Homo sapiens: one gene and its partner. The protein of the gene in region 1 interacts with the protein of each later gene in a biochemical or structural test. Each region holds a gene or a part of one and is shown on either strand. Other genes may lie near its edges.

Region 1 (7,827 bases):
GCACAACACAAATACCCGAGTGGGTCTTGTAGGCTTGAATGAATGATTTCATAAGTGTCTTGTCAGCCTACATGCATGCAAAGCACTGTCAGCCTGCTCCTGCCTCCCCAAATCAAATACGTATCAATGACAAACGCTAATGTGAAAAATTAGAGGCAAAGTACAACTTCCAGCAACAGAAAAGAAGACCTAGATCAAAGCATCACCTGATAAATCCAAATACTTAAGCAGATGTCAGCGTCTTACTGAGGACTTCAAAAGTGGGCACATCCCATGTTCCTACATGCACTTAATAGCTGGTGATACTTAAATTGGTTGAGTCACATTGCAAATGAAATTGAAACACACCAACTCATGGGTAGATATAGCTCTAAGCTCTGACACAGACCAAGTTGTCTCTATCCAATATGTCTTGGGAGTATGGAGAATAAATGGACTCTCTTTCTTTACAGAATCTTAAAACTGGGGATGAGGATTATTCACGGGTGATTTTACTTTATTTTTCAGATGCTCTGTTTCATATCAATACCTGAAATTGCTTTGTAGTCACAATAGTCACACTGGATGCATTTCTTCACTAACAATATCCAGATGTGAAGAGTTTGGGGAAACCCAGGGATCCGCCCCATCCTGAGAGCAGCTGCTGTGCATGAGGCACCGCTCACCTTCTCATAGGGAATCTGCAGCAGCTCCAGCACCACGGCGTGCGCGCCCATGTTCCGGAGCAGACGCTGTTGCTGCTTCCTGCTCTTTCTCACTGAGGCACTCTCTTGAACACAGAGTTTGCTAAGCCGAATCAAAATCTAGTAGAATGAAAGAAATCAGTCTCAGAAAACTAGGAACTATAGCTGGAAAAAGATTGCAGAGGGTGGTGGCGGGCAGGGAGGCAAAGGGGATTATAATGCATTAAAAACGTAAAACAAAATTCCTTCAGTATGTGGCATTTCTGTTGACTCCATCAAGCCAAATCCATAAGACTAAGGTCACGTCTTCCAGAATAAGCAGGGGATTATGGCTTCAACAACAAGTGGGACAGTTTCAGAGATATCGCTTAAAATGGAATGACCTGGCATCATTGCCGAGACCCTGGGAAGAGTTTGCTCTGGGGTAAAACACACAAAGCTCCCAGCCTCCCAACTTTGAACCAGCGTACGCAAAGGTTTCTAAAAAACTACAGCTCTCAGTGGGGACACTGTGTACCAGGCACTTAGATGACTCCCTGACAGTATTCTCAATTAGTCCTTCCTTCAATTGTAAAGCTTCAGAAATATGCGGTGCCTACGAAAGGTTGCACCTACAAAAGGTGAGGAAGCTGAGGACAAAAATAATAAGTAGAAGAGCTGGGTGTGGAGCCCAGATCTGATGCCAAAACCCATGAGCTTAACCTCTGAGCTCTACTTTCTCCCTGTTAAACCACATGAAGAAAAAAGCTCAAATGTGTGTACCTTCAACTTGACTATCACAAACTAAAGCTCCTTAGAGAATTCATAAAGAAAGGAAAAATGGTGGTGGGGGAGGAGCTTACCTCTTTGACCACTCTGTAGTTGTAGCTGCTGGTGCTTTCATGCTTTTGTGGCTTGTTATTTCCCTCCTAGAAACCAAAGTGAACACAAGTGTGATCTGTACAACTCTTGGGCTACTGTCAGTTTTTTACAGTTAGCATCGACCTTTAGGAAAGAAAGGGAGTTCTATACTGTTTTACAATAGTCATGCTGGGCTTATGCCCCAGTCATCTACCTACTTGCTATGGGTTTCCTTGGGAAGGGATAGTAGTGGGCTGGGCCATGCCTAGAGAACAGGTCAATTCCCAAGTGGGTCTGTAAGGGAAACCTGGTGCTAATTCACTCAATATCGCAGTCTCTTCTACATGGTCCAAGGCTGCACAGGAGACATAGCTAAACTTTGATTCGTAGCTTATTTCCTAGGCAAACAGCTTGTGATCTTGGTGACTTAACAAGCAGATCTCTTGAAAATAAATCCTATCACATTTATACCTAAAACCAGAAGAGGATGCTCCCTAGTTTCGAGAAGCCCATCCATCCACTTTGGCAGCATAACTTGTGTTTCACTCACCTCCGTTTTCTTATGTTCATTTTCTCCAGATGCACCATCCATAGTCTCATCGGGGCCCTGCCCTTTGTACACCCAAAGCTCTGACTTTTCCACGATGGACCTCAGTTGATCCAAGTCTTGTTTGATCTGTTTGTAGTTGTCCACATCTTGGCTGGTAACCAGCAGTTGAACCTTAATGAACGCAATCCGTTAGGTGCACACAACAGCTTCTTGGACAGACAACACACACGTGGGTGACCTGAGCTACCTGTTTGAAGGCCTGGAGCACCTCCTGCCTCTGGCTGAAGTGCCGGAAGAGGAGCTGCAGGGCCCCTGACACCAGGGGTGGGTAGTCATGCATCGTCAAGTGGAGCAGGACACGGAGAAAGGTTCTGCCGCCGTGGTCATCCAAGTCCAGTGGGGTGTTCTCCTCACTAAAGGAGCACAAGGTGGGGAAAGGCCAAATGAATGACAAATGCCTCCTCTCACGCCCCTTGGGCCCAGATGCACCTAACCTAGTTGCATTTCTAGCACTGTGATCTCCAGACATGCAATTTCACTTTTCATTAGCTCCTTTAACAATACAGCCTTGCTTCATCTTCAACTATATTATGAGGTGAGGGGACAAGGAAGATGTCATATTAAAAGATAAGTCAAATTTTAAGCCAAAGTGACAAGACTAGCATTAGATTCTCAACATCTACATAGGGTGTTCTTCTGCTGGGCTTCGTCTGTGGTCTGAGAACTGCAAGAGGATGTGTTTCTCCTAAGTTATTAGTTTATGTATTTAGTTTTTAGAGATGAGGTCTTGCTATGTTGCCCAGGCTGAATTCAAACTCCTATGCTCAAATGATCCTCCTGCCTTAGCATACTGAGTAGCTGGGACTATAGGAATGCACTACCATGCCTGACTATATTTAAATATTAATAAGCATATCCTAGATCAAATGGCAGACTACTCCATAACTGAGCACTGCTAGTCAATTATTGGGTCTGCACCTATATTGGGTTTAGAGTCAAATGAATGACAAATGGTGGAAACTTCCTGGTTGCTGGCTAATAAGAAAAGCACAGAGAAGACTTATAAATACTGTATTCATGCTATGTATTCCAAAAAGGTGTGAAGGTTTCAATGCTGTTCACTATGAGGAAAATGGCGGGAGAGCTGAGTGATCACACAGCACATGGAACCTGTATTATGCTAAACTCACAATACCATGTTTAAGTTTCAGAAAAACATCTTCCATCATAGTACATAATGTTGCTAATTCAAATTTCACAGGTTTTATATTAAGCATTGAGGTAGACTATTAACACTGGTGGGCCCCAACAGAGTGTTCAAACCCTTATGTAGTCCCCTCCCACACTGACAATGAGCTTGGCCATGGGATTTGCTTGAACAATAAGATATTAGGAGATGCAATGCAAGCAGAGGCCCAATTAGCACTTGCATACTGTTGGCTTGTCCTCTTAGAACATTTGCTTTTTGAGTCAGCCACCGTGCTGTAAAGAAGCCCAAGCTATCCACATGGACAGAGAGAGAAAGAAGTTCTGGCCTTGCAGGCATCTCTGCTATAGTGCCAGAAATGTGAATAATCCAACTTGGAGGTGCCAGCCCCAGTTACCACCTCACTACAGTATGACAGACCCAACAGTGACCACCAGCAGAAGAACCATCCAGCTTAATCAAGCCACAGGACTGTAAGAAGTATTAATAAAATGGTGGTGGTTTGAATCCTTAAGTTTTTTGGAGTAATATGTTATAAAGCAATAATCAAACCAAGTGTGCTAATTATAAGAACTATGTGCATATGGTGTTTATACCAAATTTTATACTTGGAGGTATAAGAGTTCCATAATTATAATAATGTCTTAAGTCAAAATTGACCAGTGCGGTTTTTTTTTAAAGGGGTTCATACATTAATATTAGGAACAATGAAAGACCAGATTTTGCTTTCTTTGTTGCATAGCCTGTAAGGAGCTCAGGGATAAAATTGTAGCCCAGCAGCAGCAGCAGGACATGATCTTACTAACTTCACTCTGTTTTGAGCCCCTCTCTCTTTCTATTCTTCTTTTGATTGCATTTCCTCACTATGTAAAAATAATCTTGTAATGTAGGTATTTTGAGAAATCTCCTTAAATCCTTTCTGTCCTAGGTGGGACACACACACACACACACACACACACACACACACTTTCTCTCTCTCTCTCTCTCACTCTCTCTCTCCTCCCAATCAAGCCAACCAAGTTAACTCTGACTTGAGTACTAACAGTTCCAAAGATAGCACCAAAACAACCTAAGCCCAGAGACTAAATATTTACTAACATAATAAAGGGAAGGCCTCTGAGAGCTCTGGAAGAGCAGCCTTCCCTACAAAACAGTAACTGAAAATATACTTTCCTTCCTCCAAAGATGCCTTCTGCTTGTTCTTCAATGTGTTCAAAGTCAAGAGCACCTGAAAAGTTAGAACATACCACTTCAGATGCAGGAAGGTCTGCAAACATGCTGCTGGTGAACTCATCCATAAGTTTTGCAGGGTAAAGCTGTTGAGTTAACCCCAAATCTCCCAGAACATTATATTGCAAAGCTATGCAGAGTGACTAACCCAGATGACATTAACCACATATTCCACATTCCTGCCCCTTCCTCCCTCACTGCATGGTCCCCTGGTAAAGGACAGCAATGATCTCACTCATGGAAGCTTGGGCTTGGTAGATGGGATTATTTCTACTCCTACCATCTCCCGTCACCACTAGTTCCTGGGCAGGGAAAAACTTCCAAAGTGAGTAAAAGCTGCTAGTGGTCAAGAAGTCTCCTGGAGAGTTTTTTGTTACTGTTTTTATTTTGGTATTTTTGCGGGGGAGGTGGGTAGCCACAATGCTGGAAACCTCAACTGTCTCATCACTAAGACACTCCCAGATGGAAGGAAACAAGATCCAACCCAGAAGGAATCTGGGCTCTATCAATTATTCACTTGCTCAAAAAGAGTAACTGCCAGGATGATGCCCTGGTGCAATAATCCTCAAAACCATTTTCACCCTTTTTCTAGAAGATACTGTTTGCTCTCCCCATTTTCCTTAGAGCCAGGTCCCATTCTATGGCTGAAATTCCATTCTGAATCACTAACCTGGTACATTACTTGGCCCTTCTTGGCTGCTGTTTCCGGAGGATGTTTCTGAAGTCTGGGAATTGCTTTCATCAAACTCTCGCTTAAATATACACAGGAGGCAGGAGATCCTATAATCCAACCTCACATTCAAAATAAACTAAAGATTCAAGTGGAAATGGAAACAGATTGGTTACATTAACATACCATCTTGACTCTGCCAAGCCACCACACACTGGCGGGGCCTGGTATCAGCTGCATCAATTACCTTAAGCACTAAGTGAGCCAAGTATTTGGCTTAGATTTCAACAGTCATTTTAACAACAGCAGACTTCCATGGGGCATATGAAGTCTGCCCATAGCACCTTAGCCTCTAGTGTAAGCTTCAGCATCCTGGCAATTAATTTAACAATTGGAACACTAAATCACTCACTCCTGGCTCCATAAATGGAGTCTATAAAACAAGACTCCATTTCAGTAAGTATTGAATGTCAACTCTGGGCCTAACACTGAAAAGAGTGAAGTTGCCTGCTTTGGATTTAAGAGAATTAACAAAAAAAAATTTGTTTTTTACTATGGAAAATTAGCTTGGTTCCTATTTCCTGTTTCTGGTTGTTTCCCCTGGTTTGGGTACAAACCCTTGGACACCCTCTTCTTTTGCCTCCTGTATTCCCTCACCCTTTATTCCAACACAGGGTCACTTTTCCCAGGATTGCTGCTAGAACCAAAAAGAAAGATTGAGCAGCTGACATCATGTAGGGATCTCACTCACGTTCTTCCTTCCGTTCTCCCCTTGTCTCTGCTTAGCCTCCCAGCAACCTTTCCCAGTCCAGTGGCCATCACCTCTTCCAGAGGGAGATAGGTCTCTGGCCTGCCTCCATGCTCTCAGTGTATGTGTCCTACAGACTGTTGGACATCCTATTTGCTATCTTCCCAGGGCCTCAAACTCAGTGTTTCACAAAAGTAACTGCGATGGTTAATTTTATATGCCAACTTGACTGGGTTCAAGGACACCTAGACAGCTTGTACAACTTTATTTCCGGGTAAATCTATGAGGGGGTTTCCAGAATGGACTGGCATTTGAATCAGTGAGCTGAGTAAAGAAGATCCGCTCTCACCCAGTGTGAGTGGGCACCATCCAATCCACGGAGGGCCTGGATAGAGCAAACAGGTGGAGGAAGACCGAATCCACCTGTTCTGGAGCTGGGACACTCATCTTCTCCTGCCCATCAGAGCTCCAGGTTCTCCGGCTTTTGGCCTCAGACTGAGAGTTACACCTTCAGCTCCCCTGGTTCTCAGCCTTGGGACTCAGGCTGAATCACACCACTGGCTTTCCCGGGACACAGCTTGCTGTGGCAGACTGGGGGACTTCTCGGCCTCCGTAACTGCGTGAGGCCAATTCCCATAATAAACCCCCTCTTGTCTATCTGTATGTATCCTATTTGTTCTGTTTCTCTGGAGAGCGCTAACACACTAACATTGTCAGTCTTGCCTTCATCTACTTTCTGCCTGGGTTTCCTCAACCTCAGTCAGTTGCCTGATCATCAGCGCCTCCTTCCTGGACACACATCTAATCAGAGACTAAGTCCTGGTGGTTCTCCATTTACCGCTTCTCATAGAGTTCTCCCCTACTGCCGTTTCTCCCTGCTCAAGGCCTCATTATCTCCTGCCTGTTCCATTTACAGAACCAAATTCACCAAATCAGCCTCCTAACCACTTGTTCTTATGTTAAGCTCCCGCTTGAAGACTTTCAAAGGCTCAACAGAGAATAAGCCTTAGCATTTTAGACACCCAAAGCTCTGTGCAGTGTGGCTTGGTCCTCCTTTCCAAACTCACTTCTGACAACTTCCCCTCAGCACACTCTATGTCTCTGCTCAGCAAGAACTGCCCACTGACCTGCATCCCATGGTACTCGGCTTCAGGCTGCTCCATCCACCTGAGAACGGGCCCTTGTTTCTCCATGTACAAAGCCCATGCACCTTAAAGGCTCAGATGAAACCCTACCTCCTCCATCAACCCTTCTCTGATCTTTACCATGTGGAGTCACATGACCCCACTCCCGGACTCCAGTCTCAGAAGAACTTTCTGGTGGTTTTATTTCCACATCCACGCAGCTTCATCATACCTTATTCTCCCATCAGACTATAAACCCCTGTGGATGGAGCCCCTGTTCGAATCATTTTTGCATTCCTCACAGTGCACATGGTAGGGAGTCAATAAGTACCCGTGGAAAGAATGACTCAATCGACCAATCCTTCTTAGGTCACCACGGTGAGTGGACCTCAAGATGTGACCAAGTTTTGCACTGCGTCGTTTCTGATAAACGTCCAAGACACCACTTTGGAACACATGGACCATGGCCTGCAAATTTTATATGTATATTTTGTCTCGACAAAAAAAATTGAAAATAAAAGTAAAAATAAAATTTATTAAAAAATAAAGTTTTAAAAAAGGAATCTTTCTCTACTGTTGCTCAGGCATAAATTCAGTAAGATTTCTCCTTTACTTAAGCTGTCTTTATCGTCCTAATTACATGACTTTGAGACAACCCATTAAAACTTTCAAAGCATTGGTAAAGGGTGATTTCAGACTAAAAAATAAAACCCCCAGATCTTAAACATTTATGAATTTCTACTACATCTGTTGGGGTTGAGATCAGGCAACATGG
Region 2 (7,827 bases), on another chromosome or scaffold:
GTTTTGTTTCATTTTGTTTGAGACACGATCTCAATCTGTCACCCAGGCTGGAGAACAGTGGTGTGATCTCAGCTGACTGCGGCCTCCACCTCCCAGGCTCAAGTGATCCTCCCACCTCAGCCTCCTGAATAGTTGGGACTACAAGCGTATGCCACCACACCCAGCTAATTTTTAAATTGTTTATAGAGATGAGATTTCGCTGCTTCCCTAGGTTCTATTCCAACAGATGCCTTCCCCTTGGGAAGCTGTGGTTTGCCAGTGATGTACAATGACCTATGCACTTAGGAAATTTACAAGGTAAATAAATAATCCAATATATAGTTTGTTTTATATTTTATCTCTTCCGTGTTTGTGATATTTTATTTTGTTAGTTCCTTAAGAGTAAGGAATACATACATTGAATTCTATATATTAAAATACATAGATTATGTTTCAATCAATAGTGTATCATATTCAGATAATTAATAAGTGCTTCTCAATTTATCATATAAAAGGCACTTCCATAGAAGAAGTATTTCAATGCATGCCAGATATGCTCCCTCCCCTGAGAAACAAGAGGATCAATTCTGCAGGAGACGAGAAGGGTCCACACTGAGGCTCACACGCTCCCCAAGTCCCCTCCTATGTGCTCCTTGGTCACTGGGACATGACTGGTGCTGCTTCACGGGGACAACATGGTAAGTTACTAAAGAGGTATGCATGCATGTCACTTTTTCTGGGCCTGAGGGTGTCTGTTCTTATGAAAGCCACCAAAACTTGGAATTAAAGGCTACTCTGATAGGAAAATATAATCATAGTTTTTCTTCAATACTGCATAAAATTAAAATACCTACTTGACCTGTAATTAACAGAGCTCAAGAATGTGTCATAAATTTTATCAAGATGAAGTACATACGCTTTTATTACTAAATTACCAGGATCACAATAAGTGTACCTTTGGTACGCTAGGTTTAAGTAGCTGTGCACCTCATTTTCCTTACTTAATCTGGACATACCCTCATGAAGACAGACTTGTTCCTGTCCTCTTTGGCTACTGAAATGCAGCTCTAATGACTCTGTCACTAAGAGGCTGAGTGGGCCGAAAGTTGTCTCCCAAAATCCCATCACAGCCTTCCACAAGTTCTGCCCCCTTAACATGTGTCCTCAGCCTTCGAAATTCTTCTATCTGAAAATAAAAGCAGAAGAAAATAGATTAATCAATTATCGGACATTAACAAGATTGGAGTTTCATAAATGACATGCATAAAATATGTATAAATTACAAGAATTATTGAAGAGAAAATTAAAATTAAGCTTCAAAAAGAAAAAAAACAGACTTAATTCTTCCAGACCTAAGACGTTAGAGAGGACCCTTTCAAGAAATGACAACAGAAGTAGACATATCAAGATCTCTGAACAACTCAAATAGATAAAGAAATCTGCTCCATTTGTTAATGTAAAAATGATACAGGCCGGGCACAGTGGCTCACGCCTGTAATCCCATCACTTTGGGTGGCCAAGGTGGGCAGGTCACAAGGTCAAGAGTTCAACAGCAGCCTGATCAACACGGTGAAACCCTGTCTCTACTAAAAATACAAAAATCAGCCAGGCTTGGTGGTGCACACCTGTAATCCCAGCTACTCAGGAGGCTGAGGCAGGAGAAATCACTTGAACCCATGAGGCGGAGGTTGCAGTGAGCCGAGATCACACCGTTGCACTCCAGCCTGAGTGACAGAGCCAGACTCCATCTCCAAAAAACAATGATACAAACCTCTCCCAAAAAGGTTTTATGCCTATCTATAGCATAATAAGAAAAAGTGAACAAATGAATGTGCTCTTAAATGCTTTCCAAGTACATTTTAATTAATGGATTCTTATGTTACTGTATGTAAACACTGATTAGATCTTAGATTTATCAGATAGATTCAAGGTTTCCTTTCATCAAAAGACTTTTGCCACTTTTCTAGCCCTCTGGAGAGCACAGGTCCAAAAAAATGATTTTTCAAAAGTCTGAGCCCAAATTCCTGTCTTTACAATATTGATTTTCAAGTTCATTTCCCTTTATTAGGTGGGCTCTCCAGGTCCCATGGCTTCCCCACTGTAAGTGAAAAGGTTCTCAGAGTCCTCAGGGACATTGCCCATCAGCCACCCTACAGTTTCTCTAAGAACCCAGAGCCTGCCAGACGTGACTCTCTGGGGAATACTAATGTTTAAGCAACAAGCAAAAGTGATGAGCATTCCCCAGGATTATTCCCATCTATCAATTTAACTACAGGGTTCATTGTCTGTTAATTCACTTAAGTGCCACACAGTCACATGACACATTCTTCATTCCATATACAGAAGGGGAAACTGAGGCTGGAAGTTTTGAAAATTACCAGATTAGCTAGTGGGTAAGTCTGACAATTCCAAGTCTACCTGCTCTTTTCTCAGCTCCACAGTCATCTCTTTAGGAATTCTAGTCAATTCAATATAATCTATCTCCTTCACATACCCCAGGGTATTGAGCAAACGTGATTTGGGCAGCATCAATCCACCAAAAGTTCACCATCTGTGTATCAAGGGATTATATCCACAAAGATCCTTAATATGACATAGCTATAGAATTCTGCCATTCATAAAGAGAAATGAAACACAAGACAGCAACTAATTCAGGGGTTTCAACAAAGTCAAGAGACACCTATAGAGACTTTAGGGGGCCCACGAAAGCCCTGAATGATATGCAAATTTTTACATGTGCATTTTCCTCAGGAGAGGCTCCCTGACTCCAAGAGTTGAATCCCACAACATTCTAATTCAACACACTCATACATAGAGTTGGAAAAAAATTAAACGGATAGTTCAATTAGAATCCGGGTCAGAAAGCCAGCTTCTTTTCTGTGGGTTTTTTTTTTTTCTCTCTGTACTTACATGCGCTTCGAATGTCTTATTTTTCCATGTCACTGAATACTGGTTGATTTCCCTTAATGAGATTAAGTCTGACCCAACTGGGATTGTCCTGTTTAGTTTTTTATTGTACCTATATGCTGTATTTACATAGAGAAGCCAGTCAGATAAGCAATCAGCTGTTTAATCTACTTGATGGTTTTTCGCTAGATCTTCTTCAGCTATTAGAATGAAAATACGAGTAGCATCTATTGCTTGTTGCATCTGAAAAACTTCTAGAGACGAAGCTGCATGAGAATCCCTTATTATTTGCTTTCACCTTAAAGTTTTCCCTAAGTACAGAGTGAAAAGGAACCTGGTCAGTGAGAGAATCTTATGCTTTTTCAAAAAGAAGAATATCACAGTGAGGGCAGTGGACTCTGCACCCAAAGGCCAATTCTTGTCGTGCTCTGCCACCTAAGACCCAAAAGATCAAATGACTTCACCTCTTCAAACCTCAGTTTCCACATGTGTATAACAGACATAATAATAACAGTATTCACAAGGATAGCCTAGGAAATAAGAAAGAACATTCATGAAAATCACTCAGCATAGTTCCAAGCACATAGGAAGTGTCTGACAAATACTAGCACTTCTATTGCACAACTTCTTTTGAAGTGAAACCTTCAGCACTTTGAGATAAATATTTAGCTACAGTTGTATATGCAGAAAGTATTTATAATAAACCAATAATTTCACTGAGGAAATTTAAAGTCATCTCTCCTAGCATTCGCTTTCCATGTAATCATACTTAATACCTGCAACCTGAACCTATGAAGCATGCACAGGTCACTGAGGAGCAATGTGGGCTGGGAACTTTACTGCCTCAACATATGAAAGAATCCATTTTTTATTGACTTTGAAGATTATTTTAAAGCTGGGTTAATTTTATATTTATGCATTCTGAACTGGAGATAAACCTTTCAAGCCCCAGGCCTCACCCTGAAGCACATTCTGTGAAAACAACTTCTTCCAGAAGAGATGATCTGAATCAACAGCCAGCCAGTCTCAAATCACTGTACTCTCAGAGAAAACTATTTCACAAGAAATGTTTTTCTCTGATCACAGCAACACTTTGAAGACTTCCAACATCAACAGAGATGGAGGGGAAAATGTGTCTTTCTGAAATGCCAATTTTTCTAAAGCAACCACCCCCAAAACCCTTTAGTCACTTCAAATGGTTTCAAGTGCATACTGAATCAGCCACACTGAAATGAGAGATTGTGATAAATGAACAGAATAATAGAATAATATTTCAGGATAGAAATCTTTAATGAAACTCAAATGTCAAGGCCTTCCAGAGACCATTATTATCACATATATCTGAATGTATGACTGCATCTATTGTTAATGCTACTCCACTTAAACATAGTATGTGTTATTTGTTTTTAACCAATTTAAGAGAAAACTGAATGCGGGGCACCAACATTGAACATTTCATGGAGAAGTCGCCATCTTCTGAAGGTACTAGATTCAACAGCCACTGTTCTTTGAACGACAGGTGCACTCCAATTGGTCTAAGACATTTATTCCAATCTTCACTGCCTCAAAAACCAAATTATCCACTAAAAGTTCAGCTTTAAAACTGCTTCTTTATTAATGCATTCAAAGGGCTAATTTCCAGGGTTTGCAGTTTAGGGCTACTTAACTTTCAGGAGTTCCCAAGTTCTAATAGATTTATTTTCACTTGCATTTCATGTGTCATCATGTTAAAAGAGAAATACAACACATAAAAGTCAGTATGCTCTATCCATTAACCCATCTATGGACATTTATGTGGTTTCCCTGTCTTGGCTTAATGAACATGGGAGTGCAGGTATCTCTTCAAGATACTGACTTCAATTTCTTTCAATCTATATCCAGAAGTGGAAATCAACAAGACATGGAAACACAAGTATTGTATGAACTCACTTATATGTGGAATCTAAAACAATCAAACTCTTAGAAGCAGAGAGAAGAATGGCAGCTGCCAAGAGCTGGCAGGAAGCAGAAATGGGGATGTAATGGTTAAAGGGTACAAAATTTCAGTTATGCAAGATAAATAAGTCCTCGAGGTCTCCTATACAGCACAGTACCTATAGTTAACAATACTGCATTGTACACTTTAAAATGCTAAGATGGTAGATCTTATGTTAAGCGTTCTGACCCAGTAAAATATTTTAACAACAAAGGACATGGGAGGAAACTTTGGGAGGTGACAGATATTTTATGACCTTGATAAAATGGTTCTTTATAAAAGTTAGTGCTCTCACTTTCTTTTATTATCAATAACAAGAGTCAGAATAACACAATTCCAAATGGTACTAATCAAATTAAAAAGTCAAAAGCAAATTGTACTTAAACAGTCCATATATGTATACAGAGACAGATATAGACAGAGAGGACTCTCCACCTTTCATGTACTGCAGCCTTGTTTTTGCCTCATTTCTCTTCTACCCCATTATATAATGTTCTATCTAAAACCAATGCTCCCTCTTCCTTACCAACCTCTCATTCATAAACCAACTCTCACTCTGTCATGACTCTTTAATCGATCTTTTCAATTTTTTTGAGGAAGAGAGTAGGAAGAACATTCACTCCCTGGTAACACCGACGTCAACGGTCCTGAAGCCATCCCCAGCCTAAAGGAGCCTCAGCCTTGGCCGTTGTCGGCCCTCATCACCTCAAGAGAGTTTCTGAGCCACACAGATTTAAACATACTAAAGAATTACAGATTAGAGAGCTCACAACCACAGGGAAAGTGCTGCCTATCACTTAAGACACTGAGAAAATACATATAAAAATCTCTACAAGCAATTAAAAATAACACATTTTAAGAAAGGGAAGAAAGAGTCTCCCCAGAGAGAAGATCCTTGATTTGCACTGTCCAGGATGGCAGCCACCAGGCCCACATGGCCACCAAGCACTCGAAATTTGGCTTGTCCAATCTGAGATGTGCTGGAAGTGCAGAATACACACTGCAAGGCAAAGACTCAGTATGAAAATAAGGAGAGAAATCTCATCAATAACTTTTTACCTTGACTACATGCTAAAATGATAGTATTTTGCACGTATTGGGTTAAATACACTATTTGAATTAATTTCTTAATTTCACCTGTTTCTTTTGACTTTTTTTTTTTTTTACCATGGCTACTAGAAAGTTTAATATGTGGATCACATCATGTTCCCACTGGACAGGGCTGGCCTAGCGCTGCCCTTCACACGCACCTTCAGGACCTCGGCATTCTCGGGTTATAGCGCTGATCTCAATTACATGTAAAGACGAATGCAGGTACATATGAAACAGTGGTTCTCAAAGTATCCTCCCAGAATAAAAGTTTAAGTTGTCAGCAACTACCCCAGACCTACTGAATCAGCAACACAGGGGTGGAACGCAGCAATCTGTGCTTCAACAAGCCTTCCAGGGGATCTGACACATGCTCAAGTCTGAAAACCATGGCTGTCTTCGTCTGTTTTGTGCTGTTATAACAGAATACCTGAGACTGGATGATATATAAAGAACAGAAATGTATTTTCTCACAGTTCTGGAGGCTGGAAGTCCAAGATCAAGACATTTGGCATTTGGTGAGGGCATTATTCATTCGTCCTCATGTAGCAGAAGGCAGAAGGACAAGCAAGCCAACAAGAAAATGCTGTGTGAAGCCTCTTTCTTAAGGGCCTTAATCCATTAACAAGGGAAGGACCCTCATGGCCTAAACACCTCTTAAAGGTCCCATGTCTTAATACATCACATTGGCAACACCTGAATGTCAGAGGGGACCCATTCAGGTGGGTCCTGAAGAAAGGACAGAGAAGAAAATCTCCAACAAATGTTCCCAGTCATTGAAAATCTATAACAAATGTTCCCAATCATTTGAAGTGATTGTCAAACATAACCATGCTGTGGCCCTACGGCAACCTGGACTTTAGGGAAACAGCCCCTTCGATTCCATATGGAGCATGAAGACCCCTGAGAAAGACTTGCTGCTTCATGAATGGGGTCAGACTTCCTCAATTGTCCAGGGCCAGATGTGCTTCCAGATCCCACAGGCTGAGCACATGCCAGGCACTAACTCGGGCTGTCAGGATGTAAAGAGTCCTACTTTCCAACCCACAGGAAACATGGAATGCAGAGGGAATGAAGAGGAGGAAAGACAGAAGAAAAGAACATTTAAAGCAGTTTTCAATATTCTAGAAGACGTATCATGTATCCACAGGGTGAAAAAACAACAAACACATTCATATTCCTTCATTTCACTGGTGTTATTTTAAGTTGAAAGAGACAGGAAAAAACAGACATTTAATATGAAAATGTAGATAAGCTAAGAAATAGATAAGTAGGGAGGGAATGCAGAAAAAGGAGGAAGAAAAGGGCAGGAAAAGGACAGCAAAACTTAATTATCAACCCATTTCTGTATGTGTACATACGTATTTGCACAGATGGCACTATACCATAATACCCTGTTCTATCAATTCTAAGATTAATATGTATTCACATTTTAATGACTCTGTGAAATCAGAATATGTCTTAAAATTTCTGTTGTTAGATTTGGTAATGTTTTGGTATTTGTATTCTGTTCTTGGAATCTCATTTCTAAACACGACAATCCAGCTGATTGGCTTCCGAATGCTTAGACGGTTGTTTATATTACAGTTATTTAATGGTTAAAATGTCCATAATCAATGAGTGGATAAAAACACTGTCGTGTGTGTGTGTGTATACACACACACACACACACACACACACCGGATCCCCACTTTGGGGACTCAGGGGGAAAGGGTGGGAAGGGGGTGAGGGATAAAAGACTACAAGTTGGGTTCAGTGTATACTGCTTGGGTGATGGGTCCACCAAAATCTCACAAATCACCACTAAAGAACTTACTCGTGTAACCAAATACCACCTGTTCCCTAAACACCTATGGAAATAAAAAAATTTTAATAAA

The links.
Region 2: the proteins of ITPR1 (region 1) and CA8 form a complex in vitro, tested with the Homo sapiens proteins (one study listed by BioGRID).

The regions. Positions count from the first base shown.
Region 1 is NC_000003.12:4,678,045-4,685,871, reverse strand, and holds part of ITPR1 (inositol 1,4,5-trisphosphate-gated calcium channel ITPR1), read right to left. Parts: intron 5,320-7,827; coding exon 5,181-5,319; intron 4,509-5,180; coding exon 4,454-4,508; intron 2,487-4,453; coding exon 2,321-2,486; intron 2,245-2,320; coding exon 2,074-2,244; intron 1,592-2,073; coding exon 1,526-1,591; intron 804-1,525; coding exon 666-803; intron 1-665. UniProt on the Homo sapiens protein: Inositol 1,4,5-trisphosphate-gated calcium channel that, upon inositol 1,4,5-trisphosphate binding, mediates calcium release from the endoplasmic reticulum (ER).
Region 2 is NC_000008.11:60,207,755-60,215,581, forward strand, and holds part of CA8 (carbonic anhydrase-related protein), read right to left. Parts: intron 1,166-7,827; coding exon 1,031-1,165; 3' UTR 996-1,030; exon of another isoform or gene 1-995. UniProt on the Homo sapiens protein: Does not have a carbonic anhydrase catalytic activity.